Regions from separate parts of the Homo sapiens genome. Here all the other regions are linked to region 4. Evidence: fine-mapped expression QTL. A gene starts in region 4. Each other region holds a variant in brackets. All regions are shown on one strand. Distances are from middle to middle. Region 1 has its middle 23 kb from the start of PAG1. Region 2 overlaps PAG1 (phosphoprotein membrane anchor with glycosphingolipid microdomains 1). Region 3 overlaps PAG1 (phosphoprotein membrane anchor with glycosphingolipid microdomains 1). Region 4 holds the start of PAG1 (phosphoprotein membrane anchor with glycosphingolipid microdomains 1). Region 5 overlaps PAG1 (phosphoprotein membrane anchor with glycosphingolipid microdomains 1). Region 6 overlaps LOC105375924 (a long non-coding RNA gene).

Region 1 (4,091 bases), 23 kb before region 4:
CAGGCCACAGTGTGTGTTGTTCCCCTCCCTGTGTCCATGTGGCCTCATTGTTCAGCTCTCACTAATAAGTGAGAACGTGCGGTGTTTGCTGTTCTGTTCCTGTGTTAGTCCGCTTAGGATAATGGCTTCTAGCCCCACCAATGTCCCTGCAAAAGACATGATCTCTTTCCTTTTTGTGGCTGCTGAAGTCTCGCTTTTTTAATGGAGATGGGCCCAGGCATCCCAGTATTTCCAAGAACAGCTTTTTCCTATGATAGCTATAACATGGAGAAAATTATTACTTTTCAAAAATTGCAAAGAAAGCATCAATGTCACCATAAAAATATTATGATCAGGTCCCATGATGGACACATCAGCTATATTTAGAGGACAAACGAAGAGATGGATTCTATTTTAGAAAATATTTTCATACTTCGAATGTGTTCCTTAAAATATTTAATGGGGCAGTTTCACTGGTAACTAGAACATAAAACTGAAGTCTCCCAATCCTTGCCGTCCATGGCAACTTAGGTGATCACAGGAACTGCCACTCTTCCCGAGTCTGCATGTGGACATTCTGTGCTCACAAGGGAAGAGCCAAGGAGGGATGTCAGGAAGAAGCGCTTTTTTAAAATCGGCAGAATTTTAATATTTTTGTTCTTCTGGACAAAGAATATTCTCTACAACTAATGGTTTATCCAACATTTATCTCAGGAACATCTGAGTTTTGTTAATTTTCTTAGAGGTAGTAACTGGACGATGTATAGACAAACATGTTTGCCTCCCGACTGTAGCAGAGAATAATCTCTTGAGAGGAAATAGTTCTTTTTACAGCAACAAAAAGCAAGAAAAGCAGAGCAATAAGATGATGCTGTTAGTAGTTTATGTCTCTTAAGACCTTAAAAGGTAATAATCATTCTACCTTCCATTTCCTTAGCGCCTGATGGTTTGCAAAGTACTTTCACATACATTATCTCACTCAAGGAAAAGAAATGCATATTCTATAAGGGCCATTCCTGAGAGAAAATGAAACATCAAGCAAACGAAAACTATTCCTCGATTGAATAATTCAGGGAGCTGCTCTATCAAAATAGTGAACCACTTCATGAGAAACAGAGGAGACAAAAAATCAAATCAAATCACCATCACTGGCATAAATATGAAATATATGGGGTCGACTAACTTTTTTTCATTATGTTCATGATTCAGGGACTATAATTTGTTTCATATTTGTCAAAATTGGAAATAAGATGATAAATAGATATCCTAGCTCTTAGGCACCCTGTGGAATTTCAATGTCTTGCCACCTAAGGCAAAATACACACACACACACACACACACACACACACACACACAGTTTGGCAGTGTAATGACTTTCTTTTGCCCTCTGATTCCATACAAATTTAACTCCCTGTCATGACACCTGCCCCACTGTTATTGTTGTGTACCTTTTGCTCCAGCCTGGCCAGGGTCTTCCTTTGACAAAAATGTGCACATTGCTGCTTCTTAGCCTCTGTTCCCCACACCATTCTTCATAGCTAAAATAATATTTCTTCCTCCAAGCACTTTGCCCAACTACCCTGAGCTACAATCTCCATTCTTTGTCTCTAATAATTCCTGTTTTTTATTCATTCACCCAATAACTATTTGATGAGAGCTGCCTATGCACAAGATATCAGGCTAGGTACTGGGAATAGAGCAATGAAAAAGACAAACGAGATCTCTCCTCTTAAGGAGCTGGGGACATTCTGGGAGGCGGGGACAGACAATAAATGCATTTTACACATTTCAGATGCTGCTAAGTACTATGAAGCTCTATAACAGGGTAATACAAGAAAGTGGCTGGAGAGGGGACAGATAGTTTAGGTTGGGGGGATAGTCAGGGAAGGCTTCACTGAGGAGGTGACATCTGAGCTGGGACCTGAATGACAAGAAGGAGCCAGCCCTGCAAAGATAGGGGGAACAGGAAGAAGGGCGGTGTGGCAGGAGGAGAGTAAGCACAGGGAAGCATGCTGAGAGGCATGAAGAGAGGAGCTGAGAGTCAGGCAAGAGTTAGATCCCGCATGGACTTTACCTTTTACTCCAGGTGCACCCAGACGCATGGGA[G/A]GGTTTTCTGCAGGAGAGTGGCAAGACAGGATTTGTGTTTTTTGAAAGATCTCTCTGACTACTGGTCAGAGAATGGACCATGAGGGTACAAAGTTAGAATGAGGCAGACCAGTTAAGAGGTTGTTGCAGGTCCAGGGGAGACAAAAGAGGTGGAGACTTTGTATGGGGAACATGGAGAAAAGTTGGCAGATATGGGGTCTATTTTGTACATTAAGCCATTCAGACTCATGGGTAAGTTAAATGCAGCAGGGGAAAGAAGTTCGATGTCATATTCTACTGTGTCATAATTAAACAATCTCACGTGTGTTTGTACATGTATTTCAACTGAACTATAATTACTTTGCAATCAGAAATTAGTCATATTCTTCTACTCTTTTTTTTACTCAGCTACAGAAATGAGGATGGCTCATTGTAGAAATGAGCGTGCAATAAAGACTTGCTAACTTGAATCCAATTAATATTTCTACTTCTATTGTGGGTCCAAAGTCGTCTAGTTCAACTAATCATGGCAAAGCCAAGTGTCTCCCTTCCATTTTCTTTACTGCATCCTGCCATCTGTCCTTTCACCTCCTGCTACTTTTCAGTCACTGTAATTCTCCCTGTGATTCCTTCGCAATCGCCCTCTGAGTATCAGATTTCTGCTTCCTCGCTCACTGCACGCCACAGTTAGTTCTGTGCAGCTTGCTCCAGCCATTTACTCTGTGCCCACTCCCTGTCAGGCCCTCGGCTGGGTGATGGGGACCCAAAGGTAAACATCAGCAGACGTGAGAAGAAACTTCACAGTTTAATCTTCACACGAGAACTAGGAGGGAGAATCCTGGACCACACAGGTACCACACGAGAACTAGGAGGGAGAATCCTGGACCACACAGGTACCACACGAGAACTAGGAGGGAGAATCCTGGACCACACAGGTACCACACGAGAACTAGGAGGGAGAATCCTGGACCACACAGGTACCACACGAGAACTAGGAGGGAGAATCCTGGACCACACAGGTACCACACGAGAACTAGGAGGGAGAATCCTGGACCACACAGGTACCACACGAGAACTAGGAGGGAGAATCCTGGACCACACAGGTACCACACGAGAACTAGGAGGGAGAATCCTGGACCACACAGGTACCACACGAGAACTAGGAGGGAGAATCCTGGACCACACAGGTACCACACGAGAACTAGGAGGGAGAATCCTGGACCACACAGGTACCACACGAGAACTAGGAGGGAGAATCCTGGACCACACAGGTACACGTAAGAAAGAAAGGGAAGAATTACACAGGAAAACACGGATTTGATTCTCTCCTTTAGAGCTGGGCTCCCAAAGAGTTCCATAAAAGGGAAGACATCTTTGCTTCCCTGCCCCTTATCTCTCAAGCCTTCTGGACACTCTGTTTCAAGTTCCAGGAAAGGAAATCTTCGGCCTCTCCTTGAGAAGCAAAGAGAATTCAGTGACAATGTGTACAGAAATGTCTCTGACTTTCCTTAGATGATTCCATCTTTCTTCCTGCAACTCACCTCCTCACAAACAAACGTCCTCTCCTGCATTTGGGTTAATTTATTTTCAGTAAACACTCATCAAATGACCACCACTAAGCACAAGACCTAGCAGGGTCCTAGAAATATAGTTTCTGTCTTCTAGATCTTTGAAGGAAAGACATAAAATAAAGTAAAGTGAAATTCACACCAAGTAGACATCTGAACCACACGGTATTTGAACACAAAAGTGATGCATTCTGAATAGATGGCTCAAGAAAGACACCTGCCTGGATATGGAAAGGAGGGTAGTATTTTGAGAGGCTCAGGAGAGTATGGAGGTATAGGAACAGAGTGAGCAAAAGCTCAGAGGCTTCACACTGCATTCAAACTCCAGATTATGGTGCGAAGTTGTCTGTGGCTGGAAAATAGAAATTAGGGAGAAATACTCTAAAAATAGAGGTGTAAATGAAGCCAAGGTCAAGCTTTCAGAAACCTTCAATGCATGTTGCAGCATTATTTTCTGGC
Region 2 (4,091 bases), 38 kb after region 4:
TTAGGTGATACCAAGAAGGAAACTGGTATGTCCAAAGCCTTGTGATAATTCACATGGGAAGCTTTGGATTTGATTCTGTTTCTTCTGTACACATTTGCATTTGCTGAACTGACCTAAGGACTTGATCTGCCTTGGTGTGGGAAAGGATCAGATAAGAAGTCATTGCTGGCATTTTCTCTTGAAAGCAGAACAGGTTCTGTTCCCGGAGGCCAGGTCACCAACCAACAGAGATTGTGTTCAGGTACCTGTAGTGATAAGCCAGTTTGTTATAACTGTATCACAGGTTAGCAGAGTGATGTCAGGATGGCTCATTTCATTGATTATTGTAACTTAGCAAGAGCTACAAGAATTATCACAGATCTAGAAAATGGTCACATCTAAGCAAGGGTCTCTGTATCAGATATTTACCAACAGTGAGATTAGAGACCCTTGTTTACACCTTCTCAACTCAAGTAGGCACATATAATATTTAGTAGTGACTATGTGTATGCTCAGAGATGCGGGAAAGCGGAGGGAGCTGTGTGTGCCACGCTCTTGGGCTTCAGCTGTGTGTTATCTTGTGTGTGTGCGTGAGGAGCTGCTGTGGAATCAGGTGCACTTGGGTTTGAAACTTGGCTCCACCACTCACTGGCTGTGTCACTTCACATTTCTAGGCCTCAGTTTCCCCATCTGTAGGATCAGTGTAACAATAGTATGAATCCTTGTGAGCATTAAGTAAGATGAGGATATATGGAATGTATAGCATGGTGTCTGCAAATAGTACTTGATTATTAGTAATCATAGTAAAACTCATACACGACAGCATCTGAAATTACTTGTCTTTAAAGAAGTTAGAGATTCTTAATTATTTCACATGCAAGTGTTTGTACAGGAGGTAGTGTCTGGGTTCATGAAAATGTCACACTCATTTTATTATGAATAAAGCTTTTAAGGAGGCAAAGCCTCCATTAACTAGACTCAACCTCATCTTTCATGCTAATGTCATACACAACTGTTTTCTCTTTTTTATAAAATTATAAAGAGGCAAGTCAGTCTACTCATACTAGAAGATACAAAACCCTGACTATTATATAGCAGGAAGCTAAACTTCTAAAAAGCCACAAATGGCAATACTATACATTTTGCATTAGGGTCTTGGAATAGATCTATATGGACACATGGAATTACACAGGCTGAATTGAGGACACTAAGTATCTGGTTGCCTTCTCTCTGGCAAACGAGAGTGGAGATAGGTACCTGGTTGCAGGAAGTAAGGAGATGCTCTTTGCCTACAGACAGTGAGGGAAGGCTAACCAGCATTTGGAGGGGCAGCGTTCTTTGGGAAATTGAATTTTAAGCCTGCTAACCATATCATAAGACTGCAAGGCCTGGCAGAACAAGAGCATGAGGCAGCTGGATAGAAACCCAAGAAACCAAAATGAGCGACTTAAAGTGGAGCTGTTTGAAGGGGAAACAGAGCCCCAGGGAATTTCCTAACCTCAGAATGCTATTCACTCACCCTTTTTTATAGGGTGTCTGTGGCTTCTGGTTGCCTGCAAATTGAGCCAGCATGGTGCAGATGTGACAGTGGTTTAAGGCTGTTTTTCCCC[A/G]AATTTAGTGTGAATCACCTGGGGGTCTTATTAGAATGCAGAGTCTGATTCAGTAGATCTGAGGTAGGGTCTGAGATTCTGCCATTTTCAGCAAGTCCCCAGATACTGCAGAAACTGCTGGTCTGGGACCATACTTTAAGTAGCAAGTGTCTAATCCACTCTCTCCTCAACCATTTCATCCTCTGATCACCACCTTCTGTCTTCTATCCCCTGTGCCTTAACTCCAACCATTTGTGGCCCACCAGTACTCACCATCCAGTGATCCTGCTAATTTTCCTTGTCTGTCACCCCCTCCAGTTCTCCTTTCCTAGTTATCTAGCTTAGATTCCATGATCTTGTGTTATAATTATTCTTTTGCATCCACCCTCAGGTTCTTTGCTGCTCCCTCTTCCCTCATGATCCTCACTGGCAAAACCCCAACCCTGCGTAACACAGCTCTCTCCCCACGCCACATCTTCACCTACACTGGTGAGTGCGGCTGAAGGAACACACATCACTGTGCTCACAGGTCCCACTTTCGTCTCAGTGGGTCCCTGTGCCGCTATTCTGTCCATTGTTCTGCTTTTCTGGATCATCTTCTTGTGTCCTGTCCTCAAACCTCAAATACCTCCCTCTCCATCCTCATTCTCAGCTAATAATCTTGCTGCCTTTCCTGGATCTGCCCACATGTCTGCACGTGTGCCCACACCTGGCCAGTGCTCCCCTCAGTGGGTGTGGAAGCACCAGGCATGCTGTAGCTCTCTGAGGGGTGCCCAAGGTGGGCACATGGAGGGGCCAGTGGAACCAGCCCCCTCTGACCTGCCTCCCCCCCACCTTCAGGTCTGTGCTCAGCTAACATTTTCTCAGTGCTGCCTTTCCTGACTCCCCAACTCAAAGCAGCGCCCACTCCCCAGGCAGTCCCTACCTCCACAGTGCCTCTGTGGTTTTCTTCAGTGATTGTCACAGCTATGCTGCTAGATGGTGGGTTTGTTCCCCACCTCCACTAGAAAGATACATAGGACAGGGAATTTCATCTTGGTCAATATCGAAACCCCCACCTAGAATAGTGGCTGACATATGGACATTCTCCTTAAAGAAAGTATTTGGATAGATACTAGCATGGGAGATGTGATTGTGTTTGGACAGAATCAGAAAAAGCCAACTAGGAAGAACTGCATATCCACACATGTATTTAAAAAGCCACTCCCGGTCTTTTTGAATAGACAAGGCTAAGGAAGATCCCTGTTCAGGGATACTTTTGGACCTGAATATGCTGAATTTACTAGAGATTGTTGAGCCCACCAGGCCCTTTGGGGATCAGGAGGGGAAAGGACCAACATCAAATTCCATCTGAGAATCCTGTCGCTTGTCTCATTTGATGCTCTCAGGGAGGTTGGTAGTGTGAGTCAGGATTTAACCACCCGACACTGCTCTGCACTCCGTAGCATTGTCATACTCACTTGGGACACTAGCAGAGCTGTAACCAGTTCTATTTTACAAATCTGCAGGCTAAATATGCCTAATTCGCTGTGGTTTGAGGAAAAGAGATATATCATGGCTATGCCTAGGACTCCATGTGGGCCAATCCTGATGAAAACAACCACAGGACAAGTTGGCAGTGGAAATGTCCTAAGATGGCACAGAATGAAGTTGATTGCCATGAAAATATGTTGTGCTGGTCATTCTCAAGGAGTCAGGCGTTCAGTCTACTGAAAGTGAAGGAAAGGCATATCTAGCAATACTTCTTATTTTATTTTGAGGAGTTCTGCTTTTAATAACATTGTCAGCATGCACTAAATCATTGTCTCTCAAGGTTTTGAGCAGCTGTGATGCAGAGGGAAAAGCACAGGGTGTTTTGTGCGTATTGGATGAGATAACTGACCTCATGCAGGGCTGAGAATACAACAGGTGCTTTTTACATGCACCCACTCCCTCATCTATGCCCTTTCCAATGGTCCCCATCCACACTACTGTTTTTCTGCATGATATGAAAGTTAAGATATAAATATGAGAGTATGTGAGTATGTGTTTGTGTTTAAGAGATGCCCTCACTCTGTCGCCCAGGCTGGAGTGTAGTGGCACAACATAGATCACTGCAGCCTCAAAATCCTGGGCTCAAGCAATCCTCTCACCTCAGCCTCCTAAGTAGCTGGGATTATAGGTGTGAGCCACTATGCTCAAATTATTGTGTTTTAATAAGTCATCATTCATTTTAGACCAGTGATTTTCAACATGGGGATGATTTTGCTCCTAAGGGGATATTTGTTGAAGTCTGGAGACATTTTTGTTTATTACAACTCAGGGCAGGAAATGCTAGCCCCTCAAAACAAAGAATTCTCCAGCCCCAAATGTCAGCAAGGCCAGGGTTGAAAGCCCTGTTTTAGAGCATGTATTTTACATTGGTGTTTATAGTTATTTCCTCATTGGACTCTAAATAAATGAAGGAGAGAATTGAGAAGGATGTGACTGGCTGAGGACACAGTGGGACAGGAGGTTGGAACAAGTTGGGGGACCCACCTATCA
Region 3 (4,091 bases), 28 kb after region 4:
GTTATTTAATTTTTTGTGCTACTTGTCACTTCACTGTTTAGTTTTCTTTCTAGGGTGCTTTTTGCTGGATTGGCTGTGAGTCAAGCTGGTTGATGAAGCTTCATTTTGCTAAATCTCCAGAATGGCTTGTTAATCCTTATTTTACATTTCACTGACTACTGTACCATGCAGTTTCCTTCTGTTCAACGAAGGAAGAGAAAATGGCTATATGAAGCAATAATGTGATGAATTTAGAGTCTAGCCGGAGGAATCGCCATTTGCTTCTAATTGGCACATGGAGCATAAAATCAGAGCCCTGATTTTTCTAAGAACTATTCCAAGTAAAGGCCCAACAACCATCTTAACTCAGAGCTACTCCTAGATTGTTTTAAAGTGCGTTCATCAATTTGAAGAGTATTTGTATTTATACATTTCTTGCCCTTCATTGTATCTTATTTGACTCTGATACTTTCTCTCAAATTTCTTAACAGTAACCTTTCATGTTGAACTGTAAAAAAAGAAAACGGACTTCATCTTAATGTATTTCACATAGATTTCCATTACTTTTCACTGTGTTTTTGCCACTCTGTACATTTTGCTTATAATAAAGGGTTGGTTAAAGGAAAATAGATGTAATTTTTGGCACTTGTCTGCTCTAATATCGTGACTGACACTCATAATGTACATCCAGTTCTCTTAAATCCCATAAAAAGCCATTGGGAAGAAAATTTTTGAGATAATATAAATATAATCTTACGTAAGACCTGTGTAGCCACTTCTTATAGACAGCTTAGGAAAGAAAGAAGCCTTCAAATAATTACCAAAGTAGGAAGAAAACTAAAAACCTCTCGTATTAAGGGTAATAATTGCAAAATGACACCCACATAGAAAAAGTCCCTTCCTTTCATTTTCTTGAAATATATTGAAACAAAAAGTTAACTAACATCATTTGGGTACCTTTTGAGAACTTTAAAATATATTATTTTAAAATTGATTTTCTTAAGGGTTAAATACATGGTTTTGAAGTTTTTCTTAAAGTATTTTGAAAGTATTTAAATTGATTTTATGTAAACTTTTGCTACTATTGGATGCAGCCTTTTCAGCATAGCAAATGCAATGTCCTTACTTAATGAGGTTTCTAATTTTTAACCTCAAAATGAAATGAAAAATTTGTTCTATTTCCAGGAACATGGAGTAGACATACTTTTCCCTGTTCTTCCCACTAAGTACAACTAAAATTCCTAGACATTGTTCATAAAACAAACGTAAGAAGACTCTGAAAGGTAGAGGAAAGATGGCAGAATATCTATAGACCTCAAAACCCAAGCAACACACAATAGTGAGTTACCTGGCTTTTCTTCTTTTTGAGTCGTATTTCCCAGAGCTCACATATTCCCTTTTTTTTTTTTCTAAGATGGAGTCTCGCTCTGTTGCCCATGCTGGAGTGCAGTGGTGCCATCTTGGCTCACTACAACCTCCACCTCCCAGGTTCAAGTGATTCTCCTGCCTCGGCCTCCCAAGTAGCTGGGATTACAGGCATGCACCACCACGCCTGGCTAATTTTTATATTTTCAGTAGAGATGGGGTTTCACCATGTTGGCCAGGCTGATCTTGAACTCCTGACCTCAAGTGATCTACCCGCCTCAGCCTCCCAAAGTGCTGGGATCATAGGTGTAAGCCACCACACCTGACTGAGATCCCATATATTCCTGATGAAGAAGGCAGCAAGTGGAAAACACCAACAGGCACATACAAAAACAAATAAGTAAAAGATGAAAATCTGTTTTCTGAAACCAGAGGACTAGAAAAGGTAGAGCCTAGCAAAATGGAAAACTTTTAGATAATAACTGTTGTACTCTAGCCAAGCCCCACAGAAAAAAAAATGTGGCCTCACCCTACCAGCAAAAGCTGATAGGGAAGCCTAAACTTCCACCCTTGCCAGCTCTAAATTGAGAGCTGGGGTGTCCCAAGGCACCCCAGCCCTCGCCACTGGGTAGTGTCACAGAAAACTGAGTAGGGAGCCAAGGCTTTTATTTCTGCTGCGTAGTAACAAGAGCCTCCACCTCAACCCCATGTAAGTAGAAACCA[T/C]ATGCGGAACCTGGGTTTCTACCCTCCCCAACTCCTAACAGTAATGAGGAGCCCTTTTCCTCTCCAACTGGGGTGGTGTTAGTGGACATCATGTGGGAACCAGAAACACTGTTTCTCCCAGCCAGGAAGTATTGTTGGAGGCCCGATGGAGAGCCAAAACTCCCACTCCTAACTAGCAGTAAGAATGCATCCCCCTCAGGTATCAGGGGAGGTGTAGTAGGGAACCTGATTCTACCCCAGTAATCAGGATGAACCAGCAATAATAACACAGTCTCCCCATTCCCTTCTGGGAGTGGTAACAGAGGAAGGCAACTAAAATAGAAAGTTTAAGTAAGATCCAAAGTCTCATAACATAATACCCAAAATGTCCAGGTTTCAATGAAAAAAAAAATCACTTGTGATACCAAAAACCAGGAAGATCTCACACTGAATGAAGAAAAAAAAAAGCAGTCAACAGAGGCCAGCACCAAAATGACAGGGATGTTAGAATTGTCTGCTAAGGATTTTAAAACAGCCATCATAAAAATGCATCACTGAGGAATTCTAAACATGCTGGATGCAAATGAAAAAATAGAAACCTCAGGAAATAAATAAGAAATATAATGAAGAACCTAGGGGGCATCTTAGAACAGAAAAATACAGTAACCCAAATAAAAATCTCAGTGGATGGGCTGGACAACAGAATGCAGGGGACAGGGGAAAGAATCAGTAAAGAGAGAACCATCAAAATTATTTTGTCTCAACACTAGAGAGAAAATAGAATAGAGAGCCTCAAGGACCTGTGGAACTACACTTGACATTTACCATTTGTGTCATTAGAGACCCATAAGAAGCATAGGAAGAGGGAGGGGCTGGAAAAGTACTTGAGCAATCATAGCTGAAGACTTGCCACATTTAACAGAAGACTGAAACCTACAGATACAAGGAGTTGAGTGTAGTAGGCCAAATAATGGCTCCCCCGCCAATGATGTTCATGTCTTGATTCCCAGAACTAGGGAATCAGGTTCCTTTTTTCTTTTTATTTTTTAATGTAGTAAAAGGGATTTTGCAGAGGTAATTAATTTCAGGATTTTTTTTTCTTTTCTTTTTTTTTTTTTTTTTTTTTGAGACAGAGTCTCACTCTGTTGCCCAGGCTGGAGCACAGTGGCACAGTCTCGGCTCACTGCAACCTCTGCCTGCTAGGTTCAAGTAATTCTCATGCCTCAGCCTCCCGAGTAGCTGGGACTACAGGTGTGTGCCACCATGCCTGGCTGATTTTTGTATTTTTAGTAGAGATGGGGTTTCGCTGTGTTGGCCAGGCTGGTCTTGAACTCCTGACCTCAGGTGTTCTGCCTGCCTCGGCCTCCCAAAGTGCTGGGATTACAGGCGTGAGCCACCATACCCGGCCAAGGATTTTGAGATACAGCAATATCACTCCTCAGCATTTAATCCCAGAGAAATAAAGTCACATTCTCACAAAAACCTGTGTATTAATGCTTATAGCAACCTTATTTGTAATAGTCAAAACTGGAAATAACCCAAATATCCTTTAATGGATGAGTGGCTGAACAAACCGGTACATCCATATCGTGGAATACTACTCCACAATAAAACAAAGGAGCTATTGATATATGCAGCAGCTAGTGTGCATCTCCAGAGAGCCATGCTGTGTGAATAAGCCCAATCCCAAATGGCTACATGTAACATGACTCCATTTATATAACATTCTTTAAATGATAAAGTCGTACAAATAGAGATGAGATTCACGATTGCTAGGAGTTAAGGATGTGGTAGGGACAGGAGGGAAGTGGGTGGGGCTACAGAAGGGCAACATGAGTAATACTTGGTGATGGAAATGTTCTATATCTTCCTTCTATCAGTGTGTTTACCTTAGTTGTAATGTTGTAATATAGTGTTGCAAGAAGTTACCAGTGAGGGAAACTGAGCAGTGGGTACATGAGATCCCTCTTTATTATAAGTAACTGCTTGTGAATCTATAACTATCTAAAATTTTAAAATTTAATTTAAAAAATAACTTTTAAAAA
Region 4 (4,091 bases):
TAATTACACTTGTCACCAGATAACGTGAATATTGCCCTTCAAACTCCTCAATGAAGCCTGCACTGTGGAACTGCAATGTCCTAGGACCGGGTTGCTCTTAGAACATTTTGTTCTAAGTGTATCCTAACAAGTGTAGCAAAACTGGAAGACACAAAATGTATTTCCTCCCCACAAGAATGAAAGCCTTCCTAACTCCAAATTTAGGCACAGCCTGTAAAAGATGTGACTAGTAAACACAGAAACCATTTGCTTTATAAGGTCTAAATTGTCCTCTTCTCCAGAGTTGTAGAAGCCAAGTCCAACACGGAGATCCCTACTTTTATTCAAGTTCCACCATTAGTCAACTCATGTCCAGGATGTCTTCTTTAATATATAAAATGGGGATACTTTTTTATATTATTATTCAACTTAAGAGACCACTGTGAAATTTCAGTGAGGTAACGTATGTGAAATGTTATACTCCATAAGTTCTTAAACACCTGAGTTTCATACCATGCTCTGAAGCAAGAGGCCAAGTCTGGTTCCTGGGTCCGCTTCCCCAATGGGCTTTTCCAAGCTGTAGGCTGAGTCTAAACTGTTTCCTCCCACATACCCTTCCCTCTGCGACACACTAACAACATCCCTTACTCCATCACTGTCTTCCTTACCCTCTCCTGATGAGCCTTCTTCCCCAGCCACCTTTAAGCTCCCATTAATGATATGTGTAACGAGTGTTCAATAGAGTGTGTGTGTGTATATTTAATGCCATTTATATGTTTTTTCTTGCTAAGTAATGCATCATAATTTTAGAAAATTGGGACTAGTCAGATAAAGCACCCGTTGGTTTAGAATCCCTGACTCAAAGTCAGATGTCCTGAGTTCTAGACTTGGTTTGTCTCCTTGTAAGTGCAAAAGTTTATTCCCAATTCCAGGTTGCTAGTGTAAACTTGAAGTTTGGCCCAAACAAAACCCCTATCAGATTTATTTAGAGTGTTGATGCCAAATGGAATTCTAGAAGCCCACCTTTGCCAGGGGCTGAGCCAGAACCACTATCACTGGGGGTACGGCCTGGGCATTTGTTCTGCGTTTTTTATAAGCCCCTCGGGTGACTGTCAGACAGGCCAACTGTTTCAGAAGCTCTGCTCCAGGCTCTAGATCACACGTTAAGTAGCAAGGATGGGGGTCTGGACCTCCAGTATTGGCATCCTCCGAGAGCTTGTTAGAAAGGATGTCTCCCTCATTATCCCAGGCCTACTGAATCTGAATCTTGCATCTCATCACAATCCGCAGGAGATTCTGTCACACACTGAGGGTTTGAGAAGCACTGCTGTACCTTGGTATCTTTAGATACCTACTGATACCTGGGTGGGCCCCACCCAGACATTGTCCTGTACTTGTTCTGGGATGCGTCCGGGGCAAAGGGTTCTTACAAGCTCCCCAAGTTATTTTAATGCACAGCCACAATAGAAGATCACTGTCCCCCAAATGGCAACCCTTTACGGTTAAGCTGTAACCTGAATTAAATTGGCTTTTGTGGGCTCCCCAGGGACCTTAAGGACCGCTTAAACGGTGCTGTTTAAAGGACAATGGGCTCCTGGGACAAGTTCAACCACAGAGCTTTGGGTTCATAAAATCAGGGCAGGGAAGACTTCCTGCATCCTCCCGCGAGCAAGCCAGGCCCCGCGCCGGTCCTCACCCGTGTGCACCCCCAGCCCGGCCCCGCCCGGCTCGCCCCCTCCCGCCCCGCGGCCCGCCCCTCCTCCCCCGTGACGTGCCGCTGCGGCCAGGATCATGCGCACTCGCGCCCCGCTCCCCGCGCGGCTGCTCCGCCTCGGCGCCTGTCATTCTCCGCGGCGCGGCGGCGAGTGCTGGCTGCGGTACCCTCCCGCTCGCTTGTCCGTCTGCGCGCCCGCGATGTGACCAGCCGACTGGGGGCGGGCTGGCGGCTCTGCCTGCGGCAGCGCATCGGTTTTTCTCCTGGCAGGTCCCTAATTGAGCCGTGATTCCCTTGGAGCCAGAGACACCCACCAGGGGCTCGGAGCGCCGCGCTCCGGGGCTGGAGGCAGCTGCAGCGCTCGGGTCCGCGCGGCCGGGTGCAGTAGCCTCAGTCCCAGCCGCCGCCTCGCTGAGTCGTGTGCCCTGGCGAATGCCCGGCGCCCGGCACAGCTGAGCCAAGGCGACTGGTGCAGAGCGGCGGCGCCTGGTCCTGCACTTGCCGCTGCTGCCGGGCTGTGCCGGGGCGGCGGCGCTGCGCGCCGGAGTTTGCAGAGGCTGCCTCCGAGCGCCGTCCGCCAGGAAGACTCCCTGCCTCCTGAGTCCCAGTAAGTTGACTGTAGTTTCTGAAGTTGGAGGGAGCCGTGGGAAGGAGAGGTTCGTTTTTATCTTCTTGTGGGAAGCCGAGGGTGGCACCTCTTGTTAACAGAGTTCCAGCTCGAGGAGGGAGTGCGGGGTGCCAAGAAGGGGACAAGGCAGCTGGAAGGTCTGGAGTCCAGGGCTGGCTGACCTCAGCATCTCACGAATGTGCCAGTTGGAAATATGCTGGGAGAGGACAGGTACTCCTAGGGCATTTCGACTGCTGCGTGCTAATTATTCATTCCAAGCTCCTTGACTCTGTGTTTACGTTGGGGTGAAGGGGCTGGGCAGGGTCTTGTCACCTCCATCCTAATTCCTCTGGGGAGTGTGGCCAGCACTGCGATGGATCTTTGGGCGAGCCATTTCTTTCAGGCCTGCAGGCTTCCCGCGCATCCCGCTTTACTCTTCCCCTAGGCAGAAGTTGCCAACCTTTTCATAATTGGAGCCTAGTCCTTTAGGGAAAAAACAACTTATATGTCGACCCGGTGTTTTATGCCCTAAGGCAAATAAAACGAGCTCTGGGCGTGTGAATTCATACACTTTAAGAATGTAGGCAAGTCTCAAGAAATAGGATTCAGATAATGACACTTGGATTTCACCCTGATTGTCCTGCACCTCTTATGTAAGCCTCCCGGCTGGATAACTTTATCTCTGCAGTGGCTGCAGCTGTGGCCCTCCATTCCATTTGTTTAAAGTCCAATTGAACAGTATTTACTGAAAATGCTGACATGATATAGCGGCCTGAAGTCTGAAACAGAGTGCACTCTTCAAATTGGAGTGTCTTCTCCTAATAGGGAGCATGGGAGGAACAACCCACTATATTTTTCAAGGCAGCTCCAGGAATTAGACCCATAAATCATGTTTTAAAATAGCATGCATTGTGCAGAGAGCATGCAGAGGACCGCTTTTTGAACACATCCCCTTTGTTTTAGAAAAAGTGGAAATTGTTCATGCCAGACAATTGTTGAGTCTAAAAGTTAAGTGTACTGATGGGCCTAATTATCTTAATAAACAAAGAGCATGATTTATAGGTAGCTGCAGTGCCCTACTTTGAAGGATAGAAATCTTTAACCTTTCTTTCTCAGCTGTTCCCGAGAGATTCCTTTTAAGCAGAGCTATGGATTATCATCATTGATGTTTAATACCTGAGTTGGTTAAACTTGTAAAAGGAATAGTACTTTGAAGTACCATGCAGTACTGCTGTGTGACTGTTACACAGCGAATATTATAAATAAGAGGAATATTTGGAGTATTGGGTATAGATGTCATTAGTTTAACAAAATAGGTCATATTAAGACTTTCCTGCTAAATATATATACACATACATAAATGTTTAATTTGGACTTGAAATTATTGTTTAAACCAAAGCTCAGGGGTATGTTTTAATGTAAGATTTATTTACATAATCTTTGAAGAGAGAAGTGCATTTATTTATGGTATTTCAGCATGCAGAACAAGATGAACTAGTTATAGGCACCTTATTTAAAGTGTAAAGGGTTTTTTTTTAGGAATACTAAGAAAATACACAAAATGTTATTTCAGAAGTTGAAAAGTTAGTCACATCAACACATTGCGGTTTGTGAGAGCATCCAGTGCTTATCTCTAGAAGAGATTACATCCAAGCATGGAATCTCAAACAGATTGACCCATTAAGCCCTATTGCAGCCTGGTTAGGAGGACAGGCTATGGAGCCAGGCTGCCAGCTCTGGTACCATCTGTTTGAATCTAGGCAAGTAACCCAAAGTCTGTGCCTCAGTGTC
Region 5 (4,091 bases), 140 kb after region 4:
GTTTTTTCCTCATAAAAATAGTTACACCAAAAGTGACATATTGTCTATTACATGGGCCCAATCAGTATTAAAGTACTCCCCTTACTCAAAAATATTAAAAAATAATTCATGACACTTAGTAGCATTTTCATTGATTGTTTCAAAAGATCTTCATAATGGTCAAATTGTCCAATTCACAAAAGAGTGAGAAAGTTGTTTTCAGTACTGGGAATTTTTAAACCTTAGTTTTAAGACCAAAAATATCTCTTATTAGCTTGAACATTTTGTGATTACTTTTCCCTCCCCGGATCTAGTCCTTTTAAGGAGTAAGTCTAAAGAATGAGGCCATGAAGTCACTATTTCCTCCCACCTCAGTTTGTCTCCTGGTACTTAGCTGGCCTATCGCTTTGTGTGGCAATACCCCTGGGTCGCTTCCCCACTCAGCCTTCTGTATCTGCTGTTCACAGGACATGCCATTATGTCTTTCCAGTACGGATCACAGTGCTGCCATATCACAGACCCTGCCAGCCGGCACAGAACCATGCCTCGTCACAGCTCTGCCCAACTCACAGGCTGCCAAGATGAGGCCACAGGTCCACCTAGGGCGGCAGATGCTGGTGCTATTTGTCACGACTTTTGCCAAAACATGTACACTGTTGCTCACATCTTTCGTAAGAATGGTTGACACTAAGGGGCCATGGAAAAGCACTTTTAAAAAATTATGTGGTGGAATCAAACTCACAGAGGCAGAAATGTTAGTGCCGTGCTCTAACCAAGTAAGCTTAGTGTTCCCCACAGTGATCTGTATCTGGCCTGAGTCTCCTCAAGCAGCAACCCCCACTGTCCAGCATGTGGAAGGTAGATCCTTATGACAACACCAGACCCATAGTTACCAGGAAAGAAAAAGGAAGCTGAGTGTTGTGAAGGGGAAGAAATCCTTTTTATAAGAAGTAATCATTTTTAGGCCGGGTGCAGTGGCTCATGCCTGTAATCCCAGCACTTTGGGAGGCTGAGACAGGTGGATCACTTGAGGTCAGGAGTTTGAGACCTGCCTGGCCAACATGATGAAACCCTGTCTCTACTAAAAATGCAAAAAAAATTAGCCAGGCATGGTGGCATGTGCCTGTAGTCCCAACTACTCAGGAGGCTGAGGCAGGAGAATCACTTGAACCTGGGAGGCAGAGGTTGCAATGAGCTGAGATCGCAACACTGCACTCCAGCCTGGGCGACAGAGCAAGACTCCATCTCAAAAACAAAAACAAAAAAAAAACCTTTTTAAAGTAAATTGAGTGTAAAATGTTTTCACCATGAAGCCATTGCACCCTCTCCCCCAGGAAACAGTGCCTAAGGATGATGTCAAGTTACAGCCAGTTTGCTCTGATCCCCCAGGACCTAAGAAAACTGTGAGTGCTTCAGCATGCAAAGGTAGAGCTACCAGATAAGGAGAATAACTTGGCCATTTATAGCAAACTGCCTGACTTTGGAGTGAGAAACCAAGCACCTTCTAGGTCCTAGGATAGGTGAATTGGAGGTGCAGCTGCTGAAGTTCCCATTTTCTACATACTTCAGGAGCCAGGGTGTTTCATTTGGTTTTGTAAAACTTTGCTGTAAGTCATCACAGTTAATTCTTTGAATGGACATTTTAGA[G/A]TGTAACTTTTTTTCAAAATTAGCAGAACAGATATCTCTGCTCATTCTCTTTATACATTTAGTTTTTTAAAGTTCCCCTAGTATACCTGTTAGGCACTCTAAATAGGACACAGTTAAAGCTAAAAGAAGGACCAGTTGCTCCCTAGAGCCTACAGTTCAGAACTATCTTGTTGTCATGTCCTGGTTTGGTTTGGTTTGTTTTTAACTCAACAAGTTGGAAACCATGAGTTTAAAGCAAACTATTTCCTTTTCTTAAGCTTAAAGAGAATTTTTTTTTTAATCTTTAGCTCCTCATTTAGGTAGTGAAGGCTTCCCTGAAAGACAGCAGTGCCCTTCTCTGGAAGAAGAGGCTGGGACCAAAAGCCTGAGTCTATGGGTTGAGGATTTTGAGCATTCCTTTGACAAGCTTCTATGTATTTTTAATATAAGACTCATAAATGAACCTGATGTGGTGTTCATGACCCATCCCTTAAGCATGCTTGCTTTTTTTAACTTTACTTTTTGAGTATAGTACTTGTCTTGTTTTTCCTGGAGCCATGCTAGGATTTAATTCCTATGTGCCACTACCCGCCCATGTCCTGGAAGATGGCCATGCCTGCAGCAATGCTCATGTCTTGAGGAGAAGCAATGTGAAAAGCATCAGGAAAGCTGAACCTTACGTTCAAGTCAGCAAACATTTGTGAGCATTCTAGTATGCTTGCGACCTTGACACTTTTTAAAAATTATCTTTTTATTTGCTTCGAGTATCAACCGTATAGTTGACTCTAGTGGGGCGAAGGGAGCAGAGATGAGAGCAAAATTCAGACTTGCTGCCCCTGTGTGTCTCAGTTCTCATGTCTCTCTGAGAAATGTGTTGGCCCAATTCCCTATCTGCCACTCTGAGTCTCTTGAGTAAATGTGTGTAAATGAGAAAAATTATCTCAAAGATTTAACTTATTATTTAGATATTTTCTTCTTTTTAAACTCAGGAATAAACCTGGTTTGTAGATAATATAATATGGCTACTAGAGCTATAATTGAGTAGGTGACTAGAAGCATTTTTTCAAATATATTTCTTGTAAAGACATCTACTTTGTTTTAACTAGGAAAAGAAACTCCTCATATTAAAATAAACATTTCCATAAGCACTTTCTAGAAGAGTGTAGCATCCATCTACCATCCATCCCAGAATGTTTGTATCTTGCTCATAGTATTTCAAAAATTTTTATGGGTGAAAAAAATGCACTTTTTTATTTATTGGAAAAGTGTAGAGTTATTGAATTAAATTCTCAAGTGGGACAATTTAGTGTAAAGGGAAACATGGGTTTTGGAGACAAGAGCACAGGGCTGTGGTCCCTGTTCCAGCATTGACTTTACTATGTGACCTCGAGCAAATGATTTAACTTCTCTGTGCCTCAGTTTCTCCATATACAAAATGGGGATAATGATACTAACCATTGCCTACCTCATAGAGATGTTATGGGGACAAACGAAATAATAGAGATAAGCACGAATGCTTTCAACTCTTCGGAAGAAAGGTGCTATATAAATTGAAGTTGTGTTTTTAATGATCCAATTATTAATTATGTTTAGGGTTTAAATAACAATACTGTTAGTCATGTTAAGAATAAGTTTTGTTTTGATGCATATTTCCACTTCTCTTCTGTGGCCAGATCTTGATCATTCAACCAGTAATGGTACCTGAGGAACTGAAATGGGTATTTGTTTTCGTATGTTTCTGCCAGTAGTATTTCAATTGAATATCCAGAAAAGACTGGAGTTTAACTTGTAATATCTTATAGTTTACATGTAATAAAACTTATTCAAGCTATATATAAAAGTATGATTACATGTAAATAGCAGGTATGTTGTAATTAAAGGCACTTATCAAATTGTCTTTGTTCTTTTTTAATTGTAATAAAAGTCAGTTTTACATAAAGGCTTGTTAAAATTTATTTGGTATTTGAAAAGGTCAAGAATGGCTAATTTATGTACCTTTCATACATTACCAGGGTTTTGGGATTCCAGCAGTCAACTCACCACCATAACAGGAAAGATAATGTTCCTGGTAATCAGACCAAAGTGTGTAGAGGTTAGCATCAAAAACTTTGCAGAAAAGGACCCGAGTTTGAATCCCGGCTCCATCATGACTTTGAGGAAGCTGTTAGACTTCTTTGTGCCCTCCTTTTCACATTAGGAAATGGGGGATTATAGTATAGAACCTGCTAATGGGGTTGTCCTGGGGATTAAATGAGATATTAAGCATGGTACCTGGCAAGGTGCTAAGTGCTCTGTGCATGGTAAGAGACCATCTTCACAAAAGGGCTGGGAAATTTTTGATGGCATTTACCCACACTTGCCAAGCACTCCTATGAAGATGTGCAACCTGAGAGCAAATAATTCCCCAGGCCAAGAGGAAAATCCATCTGCTTGTTGTGTGAAGGGGATGCAGCCCCAGCAGGATGTCTCAGAGCAAATGACTTTAA
Region 6 (4,091 bases), 50 kb before region 4:
GTAGCCATGCATCACTTAACAACAGGGAAACATTCTGAGCAATGCGCCATTAGGCAATTTCATTGCTGTGCGAACATCACAGAATATACTTCTACCAATCTGGATGCTGTAGCCTACACATACAGCCTATTGCTCCTAGTCTACAAACCTAGGCAGCATGTTACTACATTGAATATTATAGGCAATTATATCACAATGGTAAGTATATGTGTATCTGAACATATCTAAACATTGAAAAGATACGGTAAAGTTACAGTATTATAATCTTATGAGACCATCCTTGTATATGCAGTCTGTGATTGACTGAGATGTTGTTATGCAACAAATGACTGTACCATAATGTTGGATATAGGTCATTATACATTTATCCAAACCCATAAAATGTACAACACCAAGGGTGAACCCTAATGTAAACTATGGACTTCGGGTGATAATGATGTGTCAATGTAGGTTCATTAACTGTAATGGATGTAGCATTCTAGAGGGGAATGTTGATCATGGGGGAGGCTATACATGTCTCAGGGCAGGGGACATATGGGAAATCTCTATATCTTCCACTCAATTTTTCTGTGATCTGAAATCTGCTCTAAAAAATAAAGATTTTATTTTTAAAAATTAACTACATGTGGACAAAATTTGTGAAATAACACGAAGAAATAACTATTAGAGAGTTGGGATTATGTTGTGATTTAGAAAATAGACTTTTTGTTGATTGATTTAGCCAAAAAAAATTTAATTCTATTGTAAAGATATGAGTTTAAGAAAATGGGCAAAGTGATGACAAAAAGAAAACCTGATAACTAAGGCTGGCATTTGCTTTAATCAAGAAATTATATATGCCTCCCATTGTTATCATTAATAAGAGCTAATACTTGTATATTATTTCCTGCATGCTGAGTCCTTAAAACAAAAATTAGTCCTCACCTATGATTAGAATCCACTTTGCGTATATCTTTTCTTTCATTCCTGTCAGAAATGGATAAAATGAGAGTATGCCACTGCATATGGAGAAAACAAGAGACATAGCAAAATAAAGGTATTTTTCTGCTTTCACTGTATAAGGATACAAGAGAAATATACAAGATGACTTCTGCCCTCAAGGCCTTTAGAACTTAGCTGGGGGAAACTGTACCTGAAATAATTGGCAGCGAAAGATACTGTTTTCTGTTGCATCAAAGTGCAATAAAATATTTTAAAAAGATAACAAATACATGAAAACAACTCCACCAGTGTTCCTCAATAGGAGTGCTGTTAGAATTAGTGACAGAACATTTCTTTCTTTGTGCAGAACTCTCTCATGCATTGTAAGATTGCTTACATCCCTGGCCCCTGTCCTTTAAATGCCAGGTGTTCCCAGCCATTGTGTCAAACAAAAATAAATTTAATTTCAAATGCCTCTCACATTTATTTACAAATTAAGACTCTTTAGACCAAACATTTTCAAACTCTAGTGTTCCAAAGAATCTTAAGTGCTTTGGTGCATCCTGTTCAACTTATCAATATTGAAAACCATAGTAAAAATAATACTGATAACCTGTGTATGCAAAACCCTTAGACATCTTTGACTCCTCTCTTCTCTCATCTTCCACATTAGATCAAGCAACACTGCTCTGTCTGCTCTACCTTTAAAACCCCATTCACGGTCCAACCATTTCTGTCTACCATACCACGTTGTCCAAACTCCCATCATCCCTCACCTGGATTATTGCAGTAGCTTCTTGTTGTGGACTGAATGTCTATGTCTCCCCAAAATTCATAAGTGAAGCCCTAACCTGCAATGTGCTGGTATTTGGAGACAGGGCCTTTGGGAGGTTAGATGAGGTCATGAGGGTGGAGCCCTGGTACAATGGATTAGTGTCCTTATTAGAAGGCTCACAAGAAAGCGCTCTCTTTCTCCCTCTCTTCCTCTTCCTCTCCTAATTCCTCCCCCAACCCAGGCACACCCATCAAGGGAAGGCCATATGAACACATGGCGAGATGGTGGCTGCCTTTAAGCTAAGAGAAGAGGCCTCCCAGTGACACTTACCTTGCTGGTACTTTGGTCTTATGCTTCACGGCCTCCAAAACCATGAGAAATAAATGTCTGTTGTTTAAGACACCCAGCCTGTGCTATTTTCTTTTGGCAGCCTGAGCCACCTAGTACCCCTCCCAACTAGTTGCTTGGCGTTCCCTTTGCCTTGTTCAGCCCATTCTCAGCATTGTGCTGAGAGTGATCCTGGTAAAAACGTAAGTCAGATTACAT[C/T]ATGTCCTCCTCAGAACACACCCATGACTTCTTCTTTTCTCATGAACATTACAAAAGGTTTTTACATAACCCTTGTGACTTGGGCCATGTGAACTTTTTGGCATGGCCTTTTAATACCCTTCCTGGCCTCCTCACCCAGAACACAGGCTTGCTGGTCCTCCGGTGTGCCAGGTTCGCTCTCTCCACAGGGCCTTTGCACAGCCTGTTCCATCTCTGGAGAGCTCCTCCCTTGCTCCCTCGACCATGAATTTCTTTACTCAGATTTCCATGGTCACCTTAGCTAGTGCCAATGCCCTTTCTCTCACACATCCACTTCCTATCTCCTTCCTTTAATTGACTGTTCTCATTGTCCTGTGCTGCTTTTTTTCTTTCCATAGCACATTATATATTTTACTTATTTATCTTGTTTATTGTTAGCTCATCCTCCCCATGAGAAAATCACCTCCATCGGGACAGGGGTTTTCTTTTCCGTGTTGTTCATTGCTGTTTTCCCAGTATCTGAAAAAGTATTTCTCAATATTTTTTTCATTATTGTTCCCCTAGGACTTTTTCAGGCATCTTTTTTCCTAATCGCCACCCTATGAAATTTTAATACCACAGATAGGCTGTATATATGATTATGTTTGGGGGGCCACAAACCATTTCAATATCTAACATTTTTCACCCTCAATAACTAATATTTTCTCCCTTGGCATATTATCACCATATTGAGGGTACATGATTGAGAATAAGGCCTTGGTAAATAACTAGCTGTTGAGAATAGCACATGGTAAATAACTATATGTTGAATAAATGAATGATTTAAATAATATATATACATAAAATTTATCACTGAATACCATCAACATGTTAACTTATGCAATATAAAATAACTTTATGCAAATTTCAGAAAGTTTTTCTGTTCCTTCTGTTTAATAGAAAATTCTGAGATTGAAGCCAGGCATGCTGGCTCACGCCTGTAATCCGAGCACTTTGGGAGGCCGAGGCGGGTGGATCACTTGAGGTCAGGAATTCTAGACCAGCCTGGCCAACTTGGTGAAACCCCGTCTCTACAAAAATACAAAAATTAGCCGGGCATGGGGGCGGTGGCACGTGCCTGTAATCCCAGCTACTCGGGAGGCTGAGGTGGAAGAATTGCTTGAACCCAGGAGCTGGAGGTTGCAGTGAGCTGAAATCCAGCCTGGGTGACAGAACGAGACTCCGTCTCAAAAAAATAAATAAATAAATAAGTAAATACAATAAAATAAAATAAAATTCTGAGATTGTTAATATTTATAACTATTTGACTCTATGAATCATAGTCCATTTTTTTTTTTTTTTTTTAGACAGAATCTGGCTCTGTTGCCCAGGCTGGAGTGCAATGACGCGATCTCAGCTCACTGCAAACTCCGCCTCCTGGATTCAAGCGATTCTCCTGTCTCAGCCTCCTGAGTAGCTGGGATTACAGGCATTGAAAAGATAAGTAAAGTTACAGTATTATAATCTTATGGCACATTCCTTGTATATGCAGTCCATGGTTGACTGAGATGTTGTTATGCAACAAATGACTGTACCATAATGTTGGATATATGGTGCCCGCCACCATGCCTACCCCACTAATTTTTGTATTTTTAGTAGAGATGGGATTTCACCATGTTGGTCAGGCTGGTCCCGAACTGCTGACCTCATGATCCACCCACCTCGGTATCCCAAAGTGCTGGGATTATAGGCGTGAGCCACCACGCCCGATGAATCATAGTCTTTTAAAATATTAAGTAACCATAATAAAATAAGACATAAATTTCAGTTTGAGGCTAAATATAAGACCACTATACTTATCTATATACCTTGATTCCAAACTTTTTATTAA

The links. PIP is the estimated chance that this variant, and not a neighbour inherited with it, causes the effect.
Region 1: its variant is fine-mapped to the expression of PAG1 in whole blood (TOPMed, PIP above 0.99).
Region 2: its variant is fine-mapped to the expression of PAG1 in whole blood (TOPMed, PIP above 0.99).
Region 3: its variant is fine-mapped to the expression of PAG1 in whole blood (TOPMed, PIP above 0.99).
Region 5: its variant is fine-mapped to the expression of PAG1 in whole blood (INTERVAL, PIP above 0.99).
Region 6: its variant is fine-mapped to the expression of PAG1 in whole blood (TOPMed, PIP above 0.99).

Annotation. Positions count from the first base shown.
Region 1 is chr8:81,133,218-81,137,308 of GRCh38, reverse strand. No RefSeq gene overlaps it. Among named protein-coding and RNA genes, the nearest start is that of PAG1, 23 kb to the right of the region's middle. The variant G/A (reference allele first, on the strand shown) is at 2,086.
Region 2 is chr8:81,072,217-81,076,307 of GRCh38, reverse strand. All of the region lies in intron 1 of PAG1 (phosphoprotein membrane anchor with glycosphingolipid microdomains 1), which reads left to right. Among named protein-coding and RNA genes, the nearest start is that of PAG1, 38 kb to the left of the region's middle. The variant A/G (reference allele first, on the strand shown) is at 1,590.
Region 3 is chr8:81,081,334-81,085,424 of GRCh38, reverse strand. The region is part of intron 1 of PAG1 (phosphoprotein membrane anchor with glycosphingolipid microdomains 1); the gene reads left to right. Among named protein-coding and RNA genes, the nearest start is that of PAG1, 29 kb to the left of the region's middle. The variant T/C (reference allele first, on the strand shown) is at 2,068.
Region 4 is chr8:81,109,800-81,113,890 of GRCh38, reverse strand. PAG1 (phosphoprotein membrane anchor with glycosphingolipid microdomains 1) reads left to right here and starts at 1,823. Exons shown (of 9, transcript NM_018440.4): 1 at 1,823-2,300. RefSeq lists a silencer at 1,688-1,817 and an enhancer at 2,308-2,377.
Region 5 is chr8:80,967,263-80,971,353 of GRCh38, reverse strand. PAG1 (phosphoprotein membrane anchor with glycosphingolipid microdomains 1) reads left to right here. Exons shown (of 9, transcript NM_018440.4): 9 at 1-3,544. Among named protein-coding and RNA genes, the nearest start is that of ZNF704, 95 kb to the right of the region's middle. The variant G/A (reference allele first, on the strand shown) is at 1,627.
Region 6 is chr8:81,159,500-81,163,590 of GRCh38, reverse strand. LOC105375924 (a long non-coding RNA gene) reads right to left here. Exons shown (of 2, transcript NR_188114.1): 2 at 4,066-4,091. Among named protein-coding and RNA genes, the nearest start is that of PAG1, 49 kb to the right of the region's middle. The variant C/T (reference allele first, on the strand shown) is at 2,243.